2 linked regions of the Homo sapiens genome follow. The protein of the gene in region 1 interacts with the protein of each later gene in a biochemical or structural test. Each region holds a gene or a part of one and is shown on either strand. Other genes may lie near its edges. The genes, in order: COL18A1 and SPARC.

Region 1 (11,979 bases):
AGTGCAGTTACAAACTGTTGTTGCAATACCAGCTTTTATAATTGCCCATGTATTTACCTTTATTGAGATCTTCATTTCTTCATGTGACTTACTGTTATTGACTAGTGTCCTTTCATTTTACCTGCTGGACTCCCTGGACCATTTTCTGCAGGGCAGGTCTAGTGGCAATTAACTCCCTTAGCTTTTGTTTATCTGGGAATGCCAATTTCTCCCTCACTTTTGAAGGACAGTTTTACTGGATATAGGACTCTTGGTTAACAGTTTTTTTTTTCTTTTAGTACATTGAATATATTGGTCCACTGCCTTTTGGCTTCCAAAGTTTCTGTGACAAATCTGCTGATAATCTTATTAAGAAGCCCTTGGATGTGATCAGTTGCTTTTCTCTTGCTGCTTTCCAGATTCTCTCTCTGTTTTTGAAAGTTTGATGATAATGTAACTTGGTGTGAGTCTCTTTGAGTTTACCTTACTTGGAGTTCCCTGAGCTCTTAACTGTTTATATTCATGTCTCCCAACAAATTTGAGAAGCTTTCAGCCATTATTTCTTCAGATAGTCTCTCTGCACCTTTCTTTTTCTCTTCTGTTTGCAGCTTCCACGGCATGCATGCTTCCTTGTCTCTTGATGGTGGCCACAAGCCCCTTAGGCTCTTTTCACCTTTCTTTCATCTTTTGTCTTTGAAAATTTCCATTATCTTATCTTCAAGCTCATTAATTTATTCTTTTGTCTGCTCAAATCACCTTCAGATTCCTCTAGTGATGTTTTCAATTTCAGCTATTGTACTTTTCAGTTCTGTAATTTCTTTCTGGTTTCTTTCAAGGTTTTTATATTGATATTTCCATGTTGTTCATACATCACTTTCTTGACTTTCTCCACACCTTCCTGTAGTTCTTTGAGCATCTTTAAGACAGTCATTTTAAAGTCTTTGTCTAGTAGATCTGCCATCAGGTCTTTTGCAGAGACAGCTTCTGTTAATTTATTTTTCTCCTTTGAATGTGCTATATTTTCTTATTGCTTTGTGTGCCTTGTGATTTTGTGTTAAAAAGTGAACATTTGAACTCAGTAATGTGGCTCTTGAATTTTGCCCTTCACCAGCGTTCGCTTTTTTTTGTTACTTTTTAAAAAATGTTTTGTGTCTGTGCCAGAAATCTCCCTTAGGTGTGAACTTCAGGTCTTCTCAGGTCTTTTCTGAGCCTGTCCCTTTCCCTGGGTGTGTGCAGCCACTTTCTAATTTTCCTCTTACATGCTGCTGTTTTTCAATGTCCCGTTCTTTCATGTTTGGCTCCCAAAGGAGGAATAAGATAAAAATGAGGGAGAAAAAACAGTGCCAGCCCTCTAAATCCCCTTCAAGTCACTTCAGCTGGAAGGGGCAGCTTGCAACAACAGAGGGAGTGTAAAACAATGGCCCCACCTCCCTGTCTGCACATCTGTGATCCCAGGCAACCTGATCAGAGCACAGGTTCTCGATGTCTGCAGGACAGGGTCCTTTTTGCCGTCCTGTTTCCCACAAGCTGTGTGGCTGCTGCTCCAGGAACTCGTGCATGGCACCTGCTATGGGAATGGGGGTGGAGGATGGATGTGTGGCTGCTATTGTGCCAAGAGCTGGGGTTTAGCTAAATTAACCACCCGTTACCGTCCAAGCCTTCCTGTGGACATTGCAAGCTTTCAGTAGACTCCAGAGTTCCAAAAGAGTTCTAAGACAAATTCTGCCCATGCACTTGTTAATTAGTTGGGGAGATGGATTCCTGGCGCTTTCCATCTGCCATTTACCAGAGTACTCCAGAATCATTTTCAAACACGTTTCTTTCTGTCAAGAAATCAAGTCTTGGCCAGGCATGGTGGCTCACGTCTGTAATCCCAGCACTTTGGGATGCCGAGGCATGCGGATCGCCTGAGGTCGGGAGTTGGAGACCAGCCTGACCAACACGGAGAAACCCCATCTCTACTAACAATACAAAATTAGCTGGGTATGGTGGTGCATGCCTGTAATCCTAGCTACTCGGGATGCTGAGGCAGGAGAACTGCTTGAACCTGGGAGGTGGAGGTTGTGGTGAGCTGAGATTGCACCACTGTACTCCAGCCTGGGCAACAAGAGCGAAACTCCATCTAAAAAAAAAAAAGAAAAGGAAAGAAATCAAGTCTTGAGGCATCATCATTGTTATATCATGTGCAGGTGTCTAGCCTGGATGCCACCCAGCTATGCCAAATGCGGGGAGAAACTCCCTATGGGCACTGTGGCTGGGTCCAGAGCTCAGAGGCTGGAGCTTTGAGAACTGGGCTGGAGCCAAACCATGATGGAAGCCTCTAGCTCTCAGGAAGAGACACACATCTGCGGGGGCAGAGTGACCACATTTCCAGGTTGCCCAGCCCTCGGGAGTAGCACAGTGCCCAGGCACTGGGGCAGAGGTGGATCCCGTAGTCCCTCGGTGGGAGCTCCAAAGCCTCCCGTTTTCATCTCTTCCTCTTCCCAGGATGGGATTTTGGGGATGAGATCTTCCTGGTGGGCTGGAGTCTGTCCCAGAAGTCAACAGCCCAACCTGGGGCCAAAAAAGACCCTCTTAGATAAGGCAGGCCCTCGGCAAGACTCCAGCCACACATGAGAGGGTGGAACAGAGCTCCTGAGTCCCACTAACCACGGCCACCTGCAGTGGTCAGGTGGGGGCACCGTGTCCATCCCCCCATGGGTTTGTGCCAATTTGCATATAGGTATGTAGCTTCCTATTGGCGACTGTAAGAAATTGCCACAAATTCAGTGGCTTAAACCAACACAGCTGTCTTACCTTTCAGTTTTGGAGGTCAGAGTCTGAAACCAGTTCACTGGGCTGAAACCAAGGTGTTGTCAGGGCTGGGTCCCTCTGGGACTCTGGAGGAGAATCTGTTTTCTTGACTTTTCCAGCCTCTAGAGGCTGCCGCTTCCCTTCGCTCAAAGCCCCTTCTTCCCCCTTCAAAGCCAACGGTGTTGGACAAGTCCTCATGGTGCCATCTTTTGTCCTTCGATTTTAAGGCTTTGTGTGGTTAGAAGTGGATCATCTCCCATCTCCAGGTCCACAGCCTGAGTCCCAGCTGCAGCATCCCCTTGCCACGTAAAATTACGCTTGTGGGTTCCAGCTGTTGTGCCGTGGACATCCTTGGGGCCATGGCTCTGCCCACCACAGTTTGTCCATGTGCACGGCTGCACATGTGTACATATGCATGGGAGTCTTACTTTGCATTAATGGGATTGCCCTGTGTCTGAAAGTTCCTCTTTCCTTTATCCTGCATCTCAGGAGTCTCCATAACTCCAGGGAGATGCTCTGCTCTTCGTGTTGTTCTGGTCTTTTCCTCAGCCCTTCCTGACTGAAGCACTCGCAGGTATTTCTGCTTCTCTGTATAACAGATGACCCTGCAGACACCTGCTCAGCCCCGACTGGCGGGTTCATCGCACAGCCTCGCCTTTGTTTATCAGACACCAGCTGAGCCACCCCACCTGTGCCTGGCGTGGGTTTTGGGTCAGCGCTGACGGTGGAGAGATTGAATGTTGTAAACGTGTCCGAGTGTCAACAGGAAGTCTCCACCCGGGGACAGGGGCCCGTTTCTTAGGTTGTTTTTAGCCTTCCGTGGGGGCTCTGCAGCCTTGGGATTTGGTGGAGGTGTTTGTTCTGAGGCCGTTTTTCTTTGATGCCAAGATGTCCCCCCGGGCACTTCACTGCGTAAGTGCTATGGTGTGATGGAGTGATGATGGTGGCGCACTCTTCAAGCTCTGGATCAGGTTCCGGAAGCTCTGTGTGAGTCTTACTGAGGTGGTTATTTTCTCTTTTCCCTGGAAAGTGGGCTGAGAGCACTCCATGTGGGCACGAGCGGCCCTGGCTCTGCAGGACTGGAGGGGGCTGTGCTGGAGGGCGGGGGGCTGGCCAGGCAGCCTTGGATCTTGTCCTCAGGAGCCCTTCAAAGGGGCAGCAGAGACTCCAGGCCCTGTGCCCCGAGGAGTCAGGCTGGGCTGGTTCTGGGGAGTGTCTGGAGCACCTGATGCTGAGCACAGGCGGGCGTCCGTGGAGTGCACGTGTCTGAGGGTCTCTGAGGGGTTTGCCCTTTTCTTCGGAGCCACGGTGGCCGTGAGGGATGCAGGACATTGGGTGTGGCCCTCGAGGACTGGCCTGTCTGGAGCCCACTCCCCCGTGGGTGAACGCGGCTCTTGGTGGAGAGCCCAGTTTGGGGAGAAGGGACGGTCTTGTCCTGGGAGGTGTCAGACAAAGCCGAGCATGGGACTCACAGGAGACCCCCAGTCAGGCCGTGTCAGGGTGAGGCTGGGAGTGAGGGTCCTGGAAAGTCCGGCTTCTGGGAGAGGGCGCTTTGGCTCAGAGGCTGCCACTGCAGAAGGGATGGACGTCCCCGGTCCCCTAAGATAAGGGACCCAAGGGGAGGGGCGGGGACGTTCCACACTGGTGTGAGAACAGCGGAGAGTCCCAGCCAGAGGTACCCGCTGCTCTCCTGCGGGGAGGATGCTGGCTGCACTGTCTGTCCTGGGCATATTTAAAGGGGCCTCTGTTAACACACACAGGCCTCCAGAACCATCCACACTTCTGGCTGGCCTGATTCCTGAGGGGGAAATGGTCTTTAAAGAAGCAAGCACCTTGATCCAAAGGGAGGTGGTCCAGCAGGAGGGGCCGCCCCACCATACCCAGGAAGGTTGAGCTCTCGCACCCGGGAAGGCTGAGCTCTCGCACCCGGGAAGGCTGAGCTCTCGAAATGGGGTTCAGGCATTTGCTGTTTGATTCCAGGACATCTGAGACAGCTGGGCCTGTACCTCGGGGAGTGGAGGCTGCGCCATTCTCTGCCCATCCAGCATCTTAGGGCCGGGCATTTGGAAGCTGGCTTCTGAAGGGAGCCCCCAGGAGCTTCGTGGAGAGGAGACGGGACAGCTTTGGAAAGGGCGTTGCTGTCACTGGGGTCCCTGGGGCCGCCGGTGTAGCGTGCTGGTACCCTCCAGCCCAGGAAGGTGGCAGCTGCCGCATCTTGCTTTCCCAATGACGGAATGTTCTAGGAAGGGTGGTGGGAGGTTTCTCCAAGGTGAACGCGGGGGCAGCTGGGTGGCTGGCACGGCCTCTGGCCCCCAGGCCGAGTCCTGTTTCCTGATCTTATCACAGCCCCAGCTTGGACATGTGGGACCAGGCACTTCTTATGAGAAAAAGGATCATTGTAACAGCTGCCATCTGGATGGACGATCATTGTAACAGCTGCCATCTGGGTGGACGGCGGCCTCTGTCTGAGGGGGATGTGACCGCTGGCCCCCAGAGCCCAGGCTCAGCCCGTTGGGACCCCTCTGCCCCTGGCCCAGACTGTGGCTGCAAAGCCCGGGCTCTGCCTGGCACGGCAGGTGTGCTGGGAAGTCACTCTGAGCAGGGTCTGCCCTTGAGTGGGTGCTGCCCCCCTCCCGTGGGCAGGAAACGAGGTGTGAGAACTCTGGGCACCGGGGCTGCGTCCTGGCTTGGGCTCCCTGGGCGAGGGATGGACAGGGCTCCTTCTGACCCTGGGCTACTGAGTCGAAGTGAAGTCAAGCTCCGCCTGGGCAGGAATGAGTGGAGTGAGTCACCCGGCGCTGTGGGGCATTTGCACGGAGCAGCGGGGCTGGTGGGGAGACTGTGGCACGTTGGCAGGTACGTCAGGCATGCAGCCCCTCCAAGGGGTGATTGTGGCCCCGAGGGGAATCAGCATGGGGGGGATGGGGAGATACAGCTTGTCCTTGCCACATGAAGCACCTGGCCCAGCAGGTGAGCCGGTGACCGACAGCGCTGGGTGAAATCCCGCACCGTGTCCTCAGATGCCACGTGGAACCCCAGCTGAGGCAGCCACTCTGGGCGACGCCCCGTAGCCGAGGCTTCGAAGAACACTGGGGTGTGGGGTCAGCCTCCCTCCTTCCCTGTGGTGGAACTGTGGCTTCACAGTGGAGGCCAGGCTGGGGTGCCGGCCTGGGCTGCTCCAGCAGGGTCAGAGTGGGCGGGCAGGGCACAGGGCCGGGCGGGAAGGCTGCCAGCCCCAGCCCCTCACAGCTCCTTGCCCCAGCGGGGGTGCCGGCCAGTCCCTGGTCCCTTCTCCCCACTGGCTCTGCCCATCAATGCTCAAAGCATGGAAGGGGAAGCCTGTGGACACCATGTCTGCTGTGCCCATCCCTGCTCAAAGCATGGAAGGGGGCCTGTGGACACCATGTCCCGTGCAGACACCATGTCTCCTGCAGACACCATGTCCCCTGCACACAGGTTTCTGCATGGAGCCTGCCTGTCGTTTGGGAATGAGTGAACCAGGGTGGCCGTTGGGTGGCTGAGCCCAGGGGATCAGGGCAGGCTGCCAGGCACGTGGAGAGCCCTCCCAGACTCAGTTTCTCCTTTCTGCCCCTGCCTGGCTGCCTCTCCAGGCCGCGTCGGTGGCCCCTGGTTCCGTCCTGCACAGCCACCTCACCAGCTGTCTTTCTTTTTGCAGAGCGCATCAGCGAGGAGGTGGGGCTGCTGCAGCTCCTTGGGGACCCCCCGCCCCAGCAGGTCACCCAGACGGATGACCCCGACGTCGGGCTGGCCTACGTCTTTGGGCCAGATGCCAACAGTGGCCAAGTGGCCCGGTACCACTTCCCCAGCCTCTTCTTCCGTGACTTCTCACTGCTGTTCCACATCCGGCCAGCCACAGAGGGCCCAGGGGTGCTGTTCGCCATCACGGACTCGGCGCAGGCCATGGTCTTGCTGGGCGTGAAGCTCTCTGGGGTGCAGGACGGGCACCAGGACATCTCCCTGCTCTACACAGAACCAGGTGCAGGCCAGACCCACACAGCCGCCAGCTTCCGGCTCCCCGCCTTCGTCGGCCAGTGGACACACTTAGCCCTCAGTGTGGCAGGTGGCTTTGTGGCCCTCTACGTGGACTGTGAGGAGTTCCAGAGAATGCCGCTTGCTCGGTCCTCACGGGGCCTGGAGCTGGAGCCTGGCGCCGGGCTCTTCGTGGCTCAGGCGGGGGGAGCGGACCCTGACAAGTTCCAGGTAACCCCCACTGTGCCGTCGCTGGGGGACTGGAGCAGCTGGGATGGGGTGGGGTGGGGGTGGCCACTGGGACAGGGACGGAGCTGTGGCCGGAAGAGGAGAGCCCCCACCCCAGCTGTGGTCAGCCCGGGCCTCCAGCGCAGGCCTCCTGGGTTCTTGGCTGCTCAGCCCTGGCCTCCGGCGCAGGCCTCCCGGGTTCTTGGCCGGCCTGGCTGGGGTGGCATTCACTTTCTTGGCTCTCTGGCTCCTGCGCCCCCAGGAAGGGTAGCCCTGGGCTTCCATGGTTTCTCTGAGACCCCGAGGCCCAGCCCAGGAGGGCCCTCTTTGAACGACTTTGTAACTAGACATCCACCCCAGCCGTGACCCCGTGACCCAGAGACACCCCCAGGCCTGTGCCAAGCCCTGTGGTGAAGTGGGGCTCCCGGCCTCTGACCGGCCGGTCGGGTAAGTGGGGACCGAGTCCAGGCCCAGCCACACGCCTCGTGGCCCCATGCAGAATGAAAGCTGGGGTCCTTGTTGAAAACGATGAACGATCCAAAGCTGGCGGCAGCAGGGTGTTGATCCCAGCAGGGTTCTCCTGTGGTAGCTGCACACCCGCTGGGACCAGGGGCTCAGGGCGGCCCTGCAGGTCAGCACCTTTAACAAAGGGTGCAGCAACCCACGCCTGTGAGACTCCACTTTGGAGCACGTGGTGGGAGTCCCCCAGCGGTGAACGCACGTGGCCGCCTCCACCTGAGTCTCCGGGAAGTCCCTCCAGTGGGCCTTCATTTCTTGGGGTTGGGGGGGTGGACAGATCCCTAAACCCATGTGGGGTCTGTGTCCAAAGCCCCTGCATTTCTGGGAACCTTTGGCTGGGAACAGCCACGTGGGTGACCTCAGCTGGCACTGTCTCACAAGTCCCTGAATTCTAGCATTCAAGCTGGCCTGCAGCTGGACGCCCCTGCCCTGGCGGGCCGCAGGGGACAGAAGGTTAATTATTGCCCAGACAAGGGCTGTTTGTTTGAAGTTGTTCTAAGTCCTGGTGTCTGGGGGTTCTGAAAGCTGACTTTTCACCTTTGGCAGGAACTTTTAACCCTCAGAGCTCAGGAGCCGCTAGGACGTTGACACCAAACTGGGCCTCTTTGTTTTCCTCTTGATCACAAACATGATTACCGGGAAAGAAGTCAGAGTCACCCCCTCCAGTGAGAGGCAATTTGTTGTGTGAGTCCCCAGCCGTTTCTTGGTGGAATAAAGTGGCCCACAAGTGCCGTACATCTTTAACACTGTTAGGAAAAGCGGCTGAGTGCCGAGAGCTCGGTACGTGGGTGCACAGCTGTGCCCCGATGGTGCTAGGGAGAGCCGGGCCACCGCCCTGCGGTGAGGGCCTCCTCATCAGCGAAGTCCCGTGTGTAGGAAGAGGGGGTCTGGGTGTTTAATTTTGCATTTCTTGGACTGTGAAGATAGACTTTCATTTTGTCACTTGTTTATTGTCTGTTTGTATTTCTTCCTTTGTGACTGACCGGTTTATGTTCTTTGTGGTTTTCAATGGGCCCAACTCTCAGTGATTTATACAAACTCCTTATCTTTAAAAGAAACTTCTCTTTGGTTTTGCATGCTGCAGATTTTATTTCTACCATGTCATTTGCCTTTTTACCTTGTCTTTTTTTTTTTTTTTTTTTTTGACTATTGGGATTGGATGTGTGGTTTTTTTGTGGGTTTTTTTTTTGTTTTTTTTTTTTTAGATGGAATCTCGCTCTGTTGCTCAGGCTGGAGTGCAATGGGGTGATCTCGGCTCACTGCAACCTCTGCCTCCCAGGTTCATGCGATTCTTCTGCCTCAGCCTCCCAAGTAGCTGGGATTACAGGCACCTGCCACCATGCCTAGCTAATTTTTGTATTTTTAGTAGAGACGGGGTTTCACCATATTGGTCAGGCTGGTCTCGAACTCCCGACCTCAGGTGATCCACCCGCCTAAGCCTCTCAAAGTGCTGGGATTACAGGCGTGAGCCACTGCACCCAGCTGGGATTTGATGTGTTTATGTGGTTAAATCTGGCCTGGAGAAGACACCATGACTTACAACAGCCCAGTGAAACCTTGGAAGGTCAGAGAGCTGGAACAGGAGGGAGCTAGAGGGCCCTGGGTCTGGCCCTGGGCTGGGGCCCTGCTGGGCGTGGGTGGCGTGCAGCAGGCCGTGTGCTGCTGGGCGTGGGTGGCGCGCTACAGGCTTCGTGCTGCTGGGCCTGGGTGGCGTGCTACGGGCTTGTGCTGCTGGGTGTGGGTGGCGCGCTACGGGCCTTGTGCTGCTGGGCCTGGGTGGCGCGCTACGGGCCGTGTGCTGCTGGGCCTGGGTGGCGCACTACGGGCCTTGTGCTGCTGGGCGTGGGTGGCGTGCAGCAGGCCGTGTGCTGCTGGGCGTGGGTGGCGCGCTATGGGCCGTGTGCTGAGGGCTGTGTTGGTTGATCTCTGTGTCAGGTCCCTGCAGGCCTCAGGTGTCAGGAACTTTCTCTTTGGGTCTTAGATGAGATTCCAGCTGGGGAGAGGAGAAGCATGCTTGTGTGGTAGAAAAGAAGACAGACTTGTTCAGCACAAGATTTTCTCAGACTTCTGAATTGAGATACTTGGGAAAGAAACATTCAAGTTGTGTGACTCATAATTTTTGGCAGAAACAAGCACAGAGCTTTGGGAGCAGGGAGGAAACCGAGGCTTCCTCCTCCTCAGCCTCTCCACAAGACTGCATCGACCCTGGCGCTGCCACAGATGGTGCCTGGGACCCCCGGCCGCAGCTGGGTCCAACAGAGCCCTCCGGAGCATTGGTTGTGTTCCTCGTCCTAAGAGTCCTTGGGCGTTGTTGGTCTTTTCAGGTTCACTTTCTTGAGTCAGGTTTGTCAGTGGTCGTCTCCCGGGAAATCATGCACCCCTCCCAGCTGCTGCCGTTGCCTTGAACGTCATTTCCAGCTGTGTCCTGATTTCCAGCTGTGTCCTGATTTCCAGCTGTGTCCTGATTTCCAGGGCGCTGAGGCTGCAGCGTGTCGGGAAGCATTTTACATGCTCTTCCCTCACAGAATTCCTGTGAGCTCTGTTTCAGGTGTCTCCGGATTTCATAACTTTCAGTCCGAAGTCCCTTAAATATTTACAATGGGCCTGTGGCTTTTGCACTAGCGCCTCCTGCCCCACCCCCGGAGCCAGCGGCCACCACGGGCTCAGAGCTTCTCTGCCCTCTGTAGTCGCCCCCCACCCAGGCACCCTGTAGCCCCGTGCAGGAGGCGTCGGCCCCTCGGGGGCACTCTCAGGAGAGCGCTGTGGCCACCTGTGGGGGGGTCAGGGCCTCACGGGCCTCTCTGGACAGTGCATGTCTGTGTGGGGATCGGGTGTCAGGAATGCCCAGTCCCTCCCCGACACCAAGACCACCCAAGATGCACCCCCCGCCCGGGCTGCCCCAGTGGAGAAGCGCAGTTTTTTTTTTTTGTTTTTTTTTTGAGACGGAGTCTCGCTCTGTCGCCCAGGCTGGAGTGCAGTGGCACGATTGCGGCTCACTGCAAGCTCTGCCTCCCGGGTTCACGCCATTCTCCTGCCTCAGCCTCCCAAGTAGCTGGGACTACAGGCGCCCGCCACCAGGCCAGGCTGATTTTTTGTATTATTAGTAGAGACGGGGTTTCCCCATGGTCTCAATCTCCTGACCTTGTGATCCACCCGCCTCGGCCTTCCAAAGTGCTGGGATTACAGGCGTGAGCCACTGCGCCCGGCCGAAGCGCAGTTTTCTAGAATTCAACCCCAGCTCCTCCCTGGGCCTGACCTGGGGGCTCCTGAATGTGAAGGCTCAGCTGCTGGGCTGCTGCCCCACCCCCACGCAGTAGGTCCTGGTGGACAGTGGACCCTGGACCCCACGGTGCTGCCCCTGGCCGACCTGGGGGCACTGTAGGCAACGCCCTCCCCCGCAGTGTGACGCTGAGAGCCGCTGGTGCGCTCTGTGAGGCTGAGAACCGCTGGTGCGTTTTGTGGGAAACCTGTGGGAAACCCAGGGGGCCCACAGGGTCCACACCCCCCCACGCATGAGCTCACACGCGTGCATACGTGATCTCATGTTTGCACACATGTGTCCATGCAGATGCATGCTCTCACGCACATGTGCCCACACACTCAGCACTCACACCCCGTCCTGCAGGCTCAGCCCCACTCCTGAGCCACCTGCCTGGGCTTTGGGGGCCCAGCCGGCATGGGGAGCCCCAGGCTCCAGCTGGCCTCGCTTGGCTCTGAAATCTAGGCCAGGATGCAGAACCCGCAGTGCGGCCAGTGGAGCCCCTGGTACTGTGCGCAGCCCCCACCTGGCAGCCCCTTTTCCTGTCAAAGCCCCTCCCAGCGTCCTCTCCCCACCAGGCAAGCTACCCGCTTGAGGCTTAGGACGTTGCGCCCTCCTGTGTCCTTGCCCAGCATCCCCGGCCTGCATCTCACCAGGCACCGCCGGCCGCGCCAGGGCCCGAGAGGGCAGGGTCAGGCACCCTGGCACTCAGCCCAGGACTGAAGATGCCAGAGGGAGCGGTGGGTAGGTGGGTGAGTGAGTGAGATTGGGTCCGGACGGAATGGGCGCAGAGATCCAGGAAACTCCCCTACATCTGCGGCGTTTCTGTCCTTGGCTTCTGGGTTTTGTTTTTGATGAAAAGGTGAAGTTCAAAGAAAGCAAAGCCATGGTGCCACCTCGGTTGGTCCGAGTCGGGAGATGAGGCCGCCTGGTGCTTGCGTAAAGCTCCCGGGACTTGGGGTTGGGGGACTTGACCTGCAGCCCCTCGAATCTGCCCGCCCTCCCAGGCCTTGGATCGAGCCACACCTGCTGTGGTTCTAAACCCGTAGCCCTCAGGTGGCCCATCAGCTGCCTCAGATGAGCCAAGTCTGAGGGAGCAGCCTCCGCCCAGCCGGGTGCTTTCCACATGAAAGCGCCCAGGACGCCCCTGGGTCTCACCACTTCTTCCTACCATGAGGCATACCGCACCCCCAGGGAGGCTGCCCGAGACC
Region 2 (11,979 bases), on another chromosome or scaffold:
CCTGGGCCGTGCTCCCCACCCCAGGCCCCCACCCACCCACATACCACCTGCATTGGTGGCCTTGGCACAGTGGCTCAACCTCTCCAGGCCACAGTTTCTTCACAGGACAATGAGCAGAGGAGATTATGTGTGGGAAGAATGCCCTAGAAATGCATTGTGCAAAGGCATGGCTGCTGCTTTCCTCAGCCTAATCTGCTCTGCTCAGGGAAATGGATGGCTCCTGCACCTTACTGGGTGCTGGGCTTTGGGTGTGATCCTAGCTGAGACTGAGCCCATGTTGTTCACGTCAACCACTGGCAGGTGTTTGAAGCTGGGAGGCTGAGGGATCACATCTATCCACAGGCCCAGCTTGGCAGGGAGTGGGGAGTAGAGGACTCAGGAATGTGTAACCACCAGAACCTTCTTAGAAATGATTCCAACCTGGTCTTTGGAACTTAGAATCCCAAATGTTGGACCTGAAGATTTCATCCAAGTCCACACTTTTCTTTTCCTTTTCTTTTCTTTTTTCTTTTTTTCTTCTTTTTTTTTTTTTTAGACAGGGTCTCACTCTGTTGCCCAGGCTGGAGTGCAGTGGCACAATCACGGCTCACTGCAGCCTCAGCCTCCTGGACTCAACCAATCCTCCCTCCTCAGCCTCCTGAGTAGCTGGGACTACAGGCACATGCCACCATACCCAGCTAATTTTTGTATATTTTCCAGAGACAAGGTTTTGCCACGTTGCCCAGACTGGTCTCGAACTCCTGAGCTCAAGTGATCCTCCCTACTCGGCCTCCCAAAGTGCTGGGATTACAGGCGTGAGCCACCGCGCCTGACCCAGGTTCACACTTTGTACTGGACTTATTAGAGGTCAGCATGGAGAGAAGGGACTTGCTCAAGGCCACAATGTCAGAGCCTCATCCAGCATCCAGGGCAGTGTGGTCACCTGGGGGCTTAGGGGTCTGTTCTTCCCTCATCATTGAACCAGGGAAAGTCCCCTCTGTGAGGCTACCTTCATCATCAGCTGGGGTCTGGGAGAGAATATCTGGTGATAAAAACCTTAGGAGTTGAAGTGAGTGGGCAACATGCCTCAGGGAAAGCAAAGCCACTTCATAAAGACTCCTTAAGACAGGCTCTCTAGTCTTGCTGCCCAGGGACTTCCTACCCATGCTTCTTCCCCCAACCCTCCTTTTCTACTCTGTACCTTCTCAATTTCATACCTGGGGTCCCACGAGGAGAACTTTGTTTCCCACCCCCTACATACTTTTCTGCACCCTGTACACCTGAGGTAGGTGAGTGGCTCTCCTCATTGCCATCGGGTGCCAGAATACACAAGACCCACAGTGTGGATGTTGCCTTGGAGGGGGAGCAGGTGTGGTCTTGGGGGTCTCCCATGATAGGGAGGATACTGAACAAGGCACTTGGCCCCACTGAGTTTGCAGCTGGGGTCACTAACCAAAGATCAGACCACACCCTGGCATCCCTCCCCAGACAACTGACTCCCAGGTTTCCAGAAGAGGGTGCTTATCCTCTCTCTTCGGAGGGCAGATAGGAATGTAATGGAGTAAAAGGGTGAAGATATGACAGTACCAAGTAACAGGGCCCAAAGCAAACCGACAGGCATGCCCTTATTTTAAAGCATTCAAAATCAGATATTTTCAAAATATTTTGTAGGCCCAGGTCAAACATCATTTTTGCTTTACAGTGTTGAAGCAAGAAAGATTCAACTTAGCCTGAGAGAAGAAATTCTTCCTCATTAGAGAAATGAAATGCAGTTGTCTCAGATGCTAGTGAGAGACTCCAGAAATCTTCCCTGATGTTGACCTTCCATAATCGCTCAGTCCTTCCCCAGAAAGTGCCCTGAACTCAGAGTTGAGAGGAGCCAACTCATAGACAATTACCTCATTTTATAAATGGGGATGCCGAGACTCAGAAAGGGAGAGAGATTTGCCCAAGATCACCCAGCATGGGGGTGGCAGAGACAGCATCAGTGCCAGCTCAGAGCTCTCTCCCCAAGACAGGAGTCTGGAAGGGCCCAAGGACACTCACATTTGCAAGGCCCGATGTAGTCCAGGTGGAGCTTGTGGCCCTTCTTGGTGCCCTCCAGGGTGCACTTTGTGGCAAAGAAGTGGCAGGAAGAGTCGAAGGTCTTGTTGTCATTGCTGCACACCTGTTGGCAAAGCACAGAGTACCCCCTCCTTCATTCCCAAAGCCCTTCGCTGATACCAATATCCTTGTCCATTTCAGAGATGGGGACACTGAGGGTTAAGCAAGGAATGTCATTAGCCTGAGGTCATATAGTGAGTTAGTGATAGGGCTGGGCCACAAATCCACTTTTTGGGTTCCCAGGTCAATGCTCAGCCCAGGCTGAGAGCCATCGATGGTCTCTGAGCAGAGGCATGACTGAGTCAGTTCTGAGATATAGGGAAAAAAATCCTGGAAGATATTTGAAGAGAAAGTTAAAGACAGGAATGGGAGAGAAACAAGAGTGTTCAAAGAAGAGTTAACATAGCAGGCCTGGAATTGTTATCCTTAGAAAAGGCCTGCTTGTAAGGTCAGCCTGTGGCTGGTGTCTGGGAACTTAGCTGGGAAACAGTTCTCTGCACTGTTGTAAATCTTTCCCTAACTGATAAGAGTGGCTCGCTATGCCTGGACTGTTTGTACAAACAATCTGGTTTATGCTGAACATCTGCTTTCCTTCTGGAAGTGTGAAATTCTGGTGCATGCTAGGCAAAGGGTACCTATGTGACCAGCCTCCAATTAAAACTTTGGGTGCTGAGTCTCTAATGAACTTCCCTGGAAAGAAACATCACTCACATGTGGCTGCCTCTTTGTAGCTGGGGTAAGAATGCACTCTGATGACCCCTCTTGGGAGTCAGTCAGTCTCCACCCAGATTCCTCCAGACTCTGCTAGTGTCTTTTTCCCTTACGATCCAGCTGTATATCCTGAATATGTCGCTGTACTAAACCTTAGGTGTGAGTACAACTGTATGCTGAGCCAATGGAGTCCTAGTCGATCTCTGAACATAGGGGTGGCCAAGCAGAGATGTTGAGGGCTGGACATGCAGTGGCCGTAAGTAGCTGTGTTAGGAGGAGGGGAGCCTGTGTTGAACATCCTGTCCGTACTTATTTAGTATAGCTTATATGTCACTGCAGAGGGAGAACTGATGGGCACTGGTGACTGGGCACTGGGAGTGGGGAGGGGTGAGGAGGAGGAAAATGTTAACAATGATATTAAAATGTGGAGCCCAGAGGCTATGTAGTCTCTGGAGAAACTGAAGATGGAGAAGCCAGATGGGAGGCTGTAGGAATAGTGCTGGCCCTAGATTTGCTGCCATGAGCTAGACTGCCACTAGCATGATGGTAGGCAGGAGCAGGCACTCAAAAAATATTTACTTGGACGGATGGATGGATCCTATTGGAGAGAAGGGACATATTTGAGAGATAATTTAAAATTAAGTAGCATTTATTGGATACTTGTTATGTACCAAACATTTCTGACACATCTCCACAACAGATCTATGAGTTAAGGACTATTTTTATCCTCTCTTTGGATGTGAGAAAACTGAGACCTGAAAAGGTTCGGCAACTTAGCTTAAATCTCACACCTAATAAGTGATGGAGATGAGGTTTGAAGTCAACCTTCAGTTTGGCCCCAGAACCCGTATTTTTGGACCTGATTCTTTGCTGATGCTGTTATACTCTTAGCTCTAAGAGTCTGGCACAGGGCTTGGAACCTGATGGTGCTGTTTAAAGTCTTGCTGGTTGCTGAAAAGATCCAGTGCCAGGCAGAGCACTCTGACTCATCCCCTCTTTCCTGCTGGGACTAGGTCTAGCAAGGGGACTTCTGAGACTGGCACTGCCCCATAGAACCACCAAGCCAACAGTTTCCTGAGCAGACATCCTGTATTCCGAAGTGCCCAATCCCTTCCCCCTGCCCCTGTCTCTCAGCCCTCACCTTCTCAAACTCGCCAATGGGGGCTGGGCAGCTGGTGGGGTCCTGGCACACGCACATGGGGGTGTTGTTCTCATCCAGCTCGCACACCTTGCCGTGTTTGCAGTGGTGGTTCTGGCAGGGATCTGTAGGGCAGAAAGACAAGGGAGTTAGCATCACCTGGACTAGCACATCCACCCCCATCCTACCTGGACAGATCTCAGGGCTGACAGTCCTTGACTGTGGCCCCCACTCTGGGCTTTGGACAGCCCTGAGTCCTGCCTGCTCTTGCACTGAGCCTCACAGTCAACATTTAGGGCAGCAGCTGGTTCAGCCTGGGGATTAGAGGTTTAGCTTGAGATAGAGGTCAGGCACTTCTGGGGGGCTGGAGGCTCAGTCTGGGACCCAGAAACACTAGATACCATATGGCTTTCCTGAAGATTGAAGCAACCATTGTGTTCCTGGGTCTCCATTGAACAATCACAGTGGGGCATTTCTGGATTCCAGAATAAGCTTTCTAGAATGGCTTAGAAAGTCAGCTGTTGACACTGAGCCAGGGAGCTGAGGCCCAACAAAACAGACTTAAGTGGCAGTAAAGGAAAAGGGAGAAGAGCCTCAAAGTCCATGCTGGACAATAGAGCCTGGTAAACACCGGATGAGGTGGGCGTGGAGGCGGGAAGGAACATGACTCAGTAGATGTCCCTCTGTTCAACAGAAACCCTGTGCCCAGCTAGATCAAATACCATTAGCTATCCCCTCAGGATGAGAGCTTAATGTGGCCTTTTCCTCGCAATGCTTTATTTTGGGTGTTTTAATAATCCTTTAGCGGATGCCTACTCAGCTTGTCTGAAAACTTCCCGGCAGCCCTGGGACAAGGGTCTGCCATCTTCATCAGCCCCATATGAGAGATGAGAAACTGAGGCTCCGAGATGCTAAGCAAGCTGGCGTGGAGAAGCCTAGGTTCAAAGCTTGGTTGGACCGCTTCCAAAGTCCTTGCTCTTAACCCCTTGAGTACAAATGCTTTGCACCTAGGGCTGGAGCCAGAGCCCCTAGGTCATTTCTCTCCCAGGGCACTAACGCATGGATAGCATGGTACGGATTATGTCAGGTTGCATTTCCTCAGGACCTCGTTTCCTTGGACTGTGTGAAATAGAATGAGCTTATGAGTGTGCAAGTTCCTGATCTCTTCTCTCAGTTCTACTTCTCTGTGGGGCACGGGCTGATACAGAAGCAATGGGAGATTTCGGTGACCAGATGTGATCAGCGACCTCCGTGGGACTGGGAAACTCAGCTTTGGACTCAGGGCAAAGAGCTATGAGGGGAGAAGCCCATTTCCAGCTGGAGAACTCTCCTTCCTACCACACACATGGATGGCCTGGAAACCGATCTTGCCCAGATCCCAGGGGACTGAGTGCCACAGTTTCCCACTTGTTAAGTCAAAGCCGTGTTTCCTTCATAGCCCACTGAGGACCCCACCCTGCATTTCTGCTGGAAGGAGCCTCATGTAGGCTGTCCTCGTGCCCCAGGCCCAGGCAGCCAAGGGCAGCTTGGATGTGCCAAGTTACAGGGAAGGGACATACTTTCCGCCACCACCTCCTCTTCGGTTTCCTCTGCACCATCATCAAATTCTCCTACTTCCACCTGGACAGGATTAGCTCCCACAGATACCTGGAATTGAGGGAGAAGAATGGGTGAAATGGCCCCACTCCCATCCCAGACCCATAAGGGTAGCTGAAGGGTTCCAGGTCACAGAAAGCACAAACGCAGGGTTGGGAATCCAGATTTAATCTATAGGCCTGCTGTGTTTTGCAGTATGCCTGGGATTCTGTTGAGCTGCCTTAGAGGTCACCAGGGGTGTTAGGGAAAGAGAGTGTGAAAGGAAAATATACCTTGGACCCCAAAATCACTAAGCTAAGGGGAAAAGTCAAGCTGAGAACTGCATAGGACAAACCTGCCTCCTATTCTATGCAGTCATCCCTCTGAGGCTCACCTGAGACAAACGCTTATCTGATTGCTTCCTCTCCCCTATTGTTTATGTAAAAATGCAGATTCACTGAGCCAGATTAAATTGTGTATTCAGGGGAAGGCTGATCAAGGACTCAAAGGAATGCAACCATTTGTCTCTTATCTACTTCTAACCTGGAAGCCCTCACTTCTCAAGTTGTCTTGCCTTAGCGAACTCAACCAATGCACAATTTAGACATGTTGATTGAAGTCTCGTGTCTCCCTAAAATGTATGAAAGCAAACTGTACTCCCGACCACCTTGGACACATGTCTCAGAACTTCCTGAGGCTGTGTCACAGGCACATTCTTAACCTTGGCAAAGTAAACTTTCTAAATTGACTGAGATCTATGTTCACAAGAGGGTGTCAAGCCTCCACCCCTGCCAGCCACACCCAAGCATCTCCCCTTTCCTCTGTGTGTGTGTGTGTGTGTGTGTGTGTGTGTGTGTGTGTGTGCTTGTTTGTTTGTTTGTTTTTGAGATGGAGTCTCATGCTGTCGCCCAGGGTAGAGTACAGTGGCGAGATCTTGGCTAACTGCAACCTCCACCTCCCGGGTTCAAGCGATTCTCCTACCTCAGCCTCCCGAGTAGCTGGGATTACAGGCACCCGCCACCACGCCCAGCTAATTTTTTGTATTTTTAGTAGAGACAGGGTTTCACCATGTTGGCCACACTGGTCTTGAACTCCTGACCTCGTGAATTGCCTGCCTCGGCCTCCCAAAGGATTACAGGGATTACAGGCATGAGCCACCGCACCCGGCCTCCTCTGTTTTACGTTTGCAAAAACTGTGGGTAATCATGGAAGAACAACTGTTGCATAGCTTAAAAAACAAAAATTTTAAGGTCCTGGTCCCCAAACGTAGGGTTCCGTTGAAGGTTTGGGAAGCATTCAGGAGTGTGTCAGGATGTGGGATATACTCAGGGTTTGCATCTATGCTATGTGTGTACAGGGAGACGAATGCCCCACTCTAGCATTGAGACCCACAGCATCCGCCCTAATTTCTCAGGGCACAGATACAGGTAGAGAGGGGCTAAGGGGCTGCGGTCACTGCCCACATACCTCAGTCACCTCTGCCACAGTTTCTTCCACCACCTCTGTCTCATCAGGCAGGGCTTCTTGCTGCTGTTGGAAAGAGAAAGTAGCGTTCAGAGGGGTCAGGAATAAGGCCAGCTTCACCTCCAAAGTGCCTGTGGCCTCGGATACAGGCTAGGGGAGCTTGGAGAGCAGCTTACTGGAGATCCCCAAAGTTGTGCCTCATGGACTGCCATGGTGAGGGACAGAACAAAGAAGAAGCCAGTCATGTGAGCACCGTGGAACACTCAAGCAGCTCCCATTTTATATATTTTATATCCTAGGTGTCTACCTAAGATTTAGCTTGGAAAAGTATTTCTGCTGCTTTGAATTCTTATAAAGTCTGAAAATCACTGATCCAGACCAATTCTTTCACTTTACAGATAGGAAAATTGACATCCAGAGGGGATGACACTGTGAATTTTAACAGATGTCATCATCTTCCTCACAGTGTGATATTATTAGTAGTATTATTAGGCAATTTTTCTTGCCATTTCAACTTGGAGTAGGAGGAAGCAAGAAAACACACAACTTTGAGGCCCTTAGCTGGCTGGAGCTGCTTCAAAACTTAATGCCAACTTTGAGAAACTTTTGCCTCCATCTACCAGCCTGATCAAGATTGCCAGGGTCTGCCATCACTCCCACTTCTTAGTAAACAGAGGATGAGGGGATCACAGGTTGAAAGAAATTGCACTTTTTGCCTGCCCTGTTTCTTCCTCCTCTCCTTGTGAAGGCTTCCAGATGAGCTGTGGATAACTACTCCTGTCCCTGCATGCAATGCTTCGAGGAACTGTCTGTCAATCAAGGGGCCCCACTCTCACCTGGCCAAGAAGCTGGCTCAGGACCCAAGCTCAGCCAGATTGGCTCTCATTTTTTGAATTTATAAAAACCTTCTTGGCACATTCTCTCAAGATGTGAAAATTGCTGGAGTTGATTCATTCAGACAGCAATATCTCAGAGACTGTCCATTAGTTCTTAACTCCCAAAGCCTAGAGCTGCCCTTTTCCAGTCCTCCCCAAGGCCTTTAATATTATAATCTACCTCTGTATCTTCCCCTCCTTCCCCAATTTAGTCAGATTGAACTGTTGCTTACAACCAAACAACCCTCACTGTTTCAGAAGCCAACACATTCCTCTCTCTATAGCTTGAATCTCTTCTAATACCACCCCTACCAGAAATCCCCCACATCCTGTCTCCTGCCTGCTTGAATTCCTCATATGACAAAGAGGTCATTTCCTTCTAAAGCAATCCTAGTTCATTGCTGGGAGGCTCTGACTACTAAGAAGTTTATCTAACATTACATGGAACTCTCTCTTCTCTGATACCTCCACCCAATGGTCCTCATCCCAGTTTTTATCCCGAGCTTCCTAACTTAAGAAAAAAAAAAGACCACTAACTTGAAATGGGGAAGTCCCTGTTCCCTTTCAGCATCCAGGGCTGGCAGGCTCAGAACCCCTGGTGCTAGCGGTAGGAATGAAAACAAGAAGACATGATATTTAGGTACTTACAGGGGCTGCCAAGGCCCTCCCGGCCAGGCAAAGGAGAAAGAAGATCCAGGCCCTCATGGTGCTGGGAACCCTATGGGGAGGAGAGATTGAGAGTTCAGTGAGGGTGAGACTTCCTTATGGAGATTTCCTTCTGAATTCCTGATATGTGCAAGATAATGTTAGATGGTACAAGTTAAATGATAGTGAAAAACATGAGGAGGTTGGTTCCATTTAATATTCTTTCAATTCTGCTTATATGAGAAGAAAGTCTCAGTTTGGTGCCAAGATGTCTTAAACACCTCCTTTATACTCATCTATCTCCTTTTTTAACAAAAAGAGAATAAGCCTCCAGCTCAGAGCTTCCACAGGAAGTTATATCCAGCTGGAACTGAATCAAGTTGTTTTGTTTTTTTTATGTGTTTGTTTTTACAGTTTCCTTCTATTTATGACAAAGGTACACAGAGTTTTTTCCATTTATGGTAGTGATATAAAATCTGCTTTTGTAATACATTTATTAAAGTTTTTGCAAAGTGATTCAACTAAGGTGATGGGCTAACTAGTTAAGTTTGGGCAATGCCAAACCAGATCATCTTCAAGGTCCCTTCAATCCCTGATATTCTAAAATTATTTTTTTCCCTAAACCCAATCTCTCCTCTTCCTCCTCTGTCGCCTCCTCCCCCTCCTTCCTACTCCCTCTGCAATGGGAGAAGTTAATAGGCAGGAACTTCTTGCCAGTTTGGGACAATGAGATCCACATTCTAAAACAAAGAACAATAGTCTTGGAATGTAACCCATGGAAACTTGAGGGTGGCCACATTTTTCTCCATTCTACCCAGAAGAGACAGCACTTCTTTAGGTCCTGTACGGAAACCATCCAGATGCTTCCATGTGTTGCAGAGGGGATGTTAGCTGAGATCTAGAAAATACCTCTGTTCTGGTAACTGTTAAGGCCTCATTCTCTAAATGCCAAGCTCTAGACTCTAATACTCTCATGACTATAAGGGATTTTGGAGCAGTATCTCCTCTGAGGATTCAAAACTAAAATGCTATTCCTAACAGAGGCTCTGTGGTGGAGACATTTCATTTCTTGCACTAACTAAATGGCTTTTCATTCTCAAGTGACTTTAGAAAGTTCTTTCTTTTACTGATCTAAATGTGCCTCCCTCAAACTTTCTGATCTGTCTACCCCATCTCCCCTGCAGCCACAAAGAACAAACCTGCTCTCTCTACCCACAAATAACCTTCCATCAGGAGCAACAGTGGCCATGTCTTCCCTCTTTCTTCTCCCAAAACCTCCCTGTCAGGCTCATCATCCCTTATTTCTTCCAAGACTTCTCAACTGACCAAATGGTGGTGGGAGGTAACCCGGCATCATGGAGAAAAATACTCAGCTTGAAATTAAATGCCAGGGGGTCTTGTTCTACCACAGTAGTATCAAGTCTTTTGGTCTCTCTAGACCTTGGTTCCCCCATCTATCAATTGAAATGGGTAGACTAGGTGAACTTTGAAGTGGCAGCCTCGGTCCTTAAAATGCTCTTAAGACACCCCAAGCACATTCTGGTCTTGACACATATGGTCTCCTCTGGGATCATATGTCTTCACTTGTACTATAGCATTTGGGAAGCAGAAACAGGCAGAGGAAGAGCCCACTTCATAATGGTCCTTTCTTGGGCTTAAAGAGACACAAAACCTCACCCCCTATTGCACAGAGTGAATGAAGTAAAACTAACAGAAATGTAAAGGACCTGGGGGTTTGGTATTGCTTCACAATAACCCCAACTTCCAGAGGAGTCTAGTCTTCCCTTTTGAGGCAGCTTGTGGAATGTTCCTCCCCTCACACAGTTGTTCACTTGTTCCCCAGGCTTAAGTGGAAAAATCTCCCTTCTTGCTTCCCCTTTTGGAAGACGCAAGATAAATAACTCCTGCATGTGGCTTGGGACAAATGGAACAGAAAAGAAAACATCAAGGAAGGACTTGTCTGAGATAGTTTGAGGTTGAAGGATCAAAGTGAAATAGCAGCTAAAACAAAACAAAACAAAAAGTTACCCTGTCTGAGCTATAATGACAGGGAAGTCATGTTATTGAAGAAATAGCCCAGCTAGGACTGGAAATGTAGTAAGCTTCAGATTAGAAAGACAGGAAGACAGACATTTCCCTGAGTCTGCGTCCTTCATATGAGCAGAGTAACCGCGCTCCCCTCTGTGACCAGGGGAAGGTTTCGCTGGGCGGCTCTTCTGTCTGTCCTGCCTCCTCATCTTCCTGAATTCCTTTTCCAGCTGCACACTCACCCTCCCTGCCACCCCCATCCCTGCTGTTGCAGCCAGAAGAGAAAAATAACTCTAAGTCTTATAGTGCTGCTTCATAGTTTCTAAAGCACTGTCACATAACACTGTCTCCTAGAGCCTTCTGACAATGCTGGGAAGTAGGCAGACAGGCATGGAAGGGTTCTTAGTCCCACTGTCCTAATGGGGAATCTGAGGTTGAGAGGGAGGAAGCACTTGTCCAAAGTCATGCAACAATTCAGGCCCTCTCCAAATAGGCAAGCGTTCTCACTCATGGAGTTGGGGTGAGCCTAATAGGAATTACGCTCAGACAAGTGGGAGTGGGGGAGAAATGCAGAGAGACTGTTAAGAACAGAACGCAAAATCTTGGAATACACCTTAAAAGTTTTGGAAGAAAACTGTAAACACAAACACAAAATCTGGGTCCTGCCCAGCACCCGGTGCTACACCACCAGTCCAAGAGCACTTTTCCCCCAGATGATGAGATGGGAGGGAAGGGAAGCGGCTGAACTATTCCAGATGCACAGCCATCTCCCTGCCTCCCCACGAGATACCTCTCTGAGGCTCTCTAAACTACCACTGACCAAAGAGCCCTGTGTCCATCCTGCAAAGCTAATGGAGTATAACAGTCACCCCAGCAAGGTCAGAACACAGTATCAAACCCCAGCATTCAGAACTCACAGCTGTGATCCTTTGCCAATCAAACCTAGGTGTAGCGTGCCTGGCGAAAATTTAAATTCCCTTCATATAAATGACCAATATTAAACAAAAACTCCCTCCTTTGTATTTCTTTAGTCTGTGATGATGCATACATTTATCATTTTCAGGGTGTTTTCATAATCCAGCACCCCACTGGGGGCTCAAGTCACATATTTCTGCCCAATAGTACAGATGAGAAGACCAAGGCCTAGAGGAAAGGAGAAAACTGCCAACGGCTAACAGCAGTGAGTGAGTGACTGGGTGGCAGGGCTAGGGTGAGAACCCGTGCAACCCTACCCCACCACTGGTATGTCTCTACCTCTGCACACTATTTCCCTTGGCAGCTACCCGCTCCCAGGTGGTCACCTGAATGGGGCTCAGTTGGGCCTTGAACTGGCCTGAGTTCCTGGGAAGGAAAATGCCCAGGGCCAGGGGAGGAAGAGAAGGCATATTTCCCTTGGCATGGTGGCCATCAAATGCAGACAGTTTTAGCCCCCTCCCAGCCGCCACTGCCTCCTGTTCCGTA

Evidence for each region.
Region 2: the proteins of COL18A1 (region 1) and SPARC form a complex in vitro, tested with the Homo sapiens proteins (one study listed by BioGRID).

What each region holds. Positions count from the first base shown.
Region 1 is NC_000021.9:45,461,794-45,473,772, forward strand, and holds part of COL18A1 (collagen alpha-1(XVIII) chain isoform 4 preproprotein), read left to right. Parts: intron 1-6,448; coding exon 6,449-6,993; intron 6,994-11,979. UniProt on the Homo sapiens protein: Probably plays a major role in determining the retinal structure as well as in the closure of the neural tube.
Region 2 is NC_000005.10:151,667,639-151,679,617, forward strand, and holds part of SPARC (SPARC isoform 1 precursor), read right to left. Parts: intron 11,699-11,979; exon of another isoform or gene 11,582-11,698; intron 9,410-11,581; exon of another isoform or gene 9,307-9,409; intron 8,564-9,306; 5' UTR 8,551-8,563; coding exon 8,494-8,550; intron 7,037-8,493; coding exon 6,974-7,036; intron 5,579-6,973; coding exon 5,491-5,578; intron 4,057-5,490; coding exon 3,935-4,056; intron 2,147-3,934; coding exon 2,026-2,146; intron 1-2,025.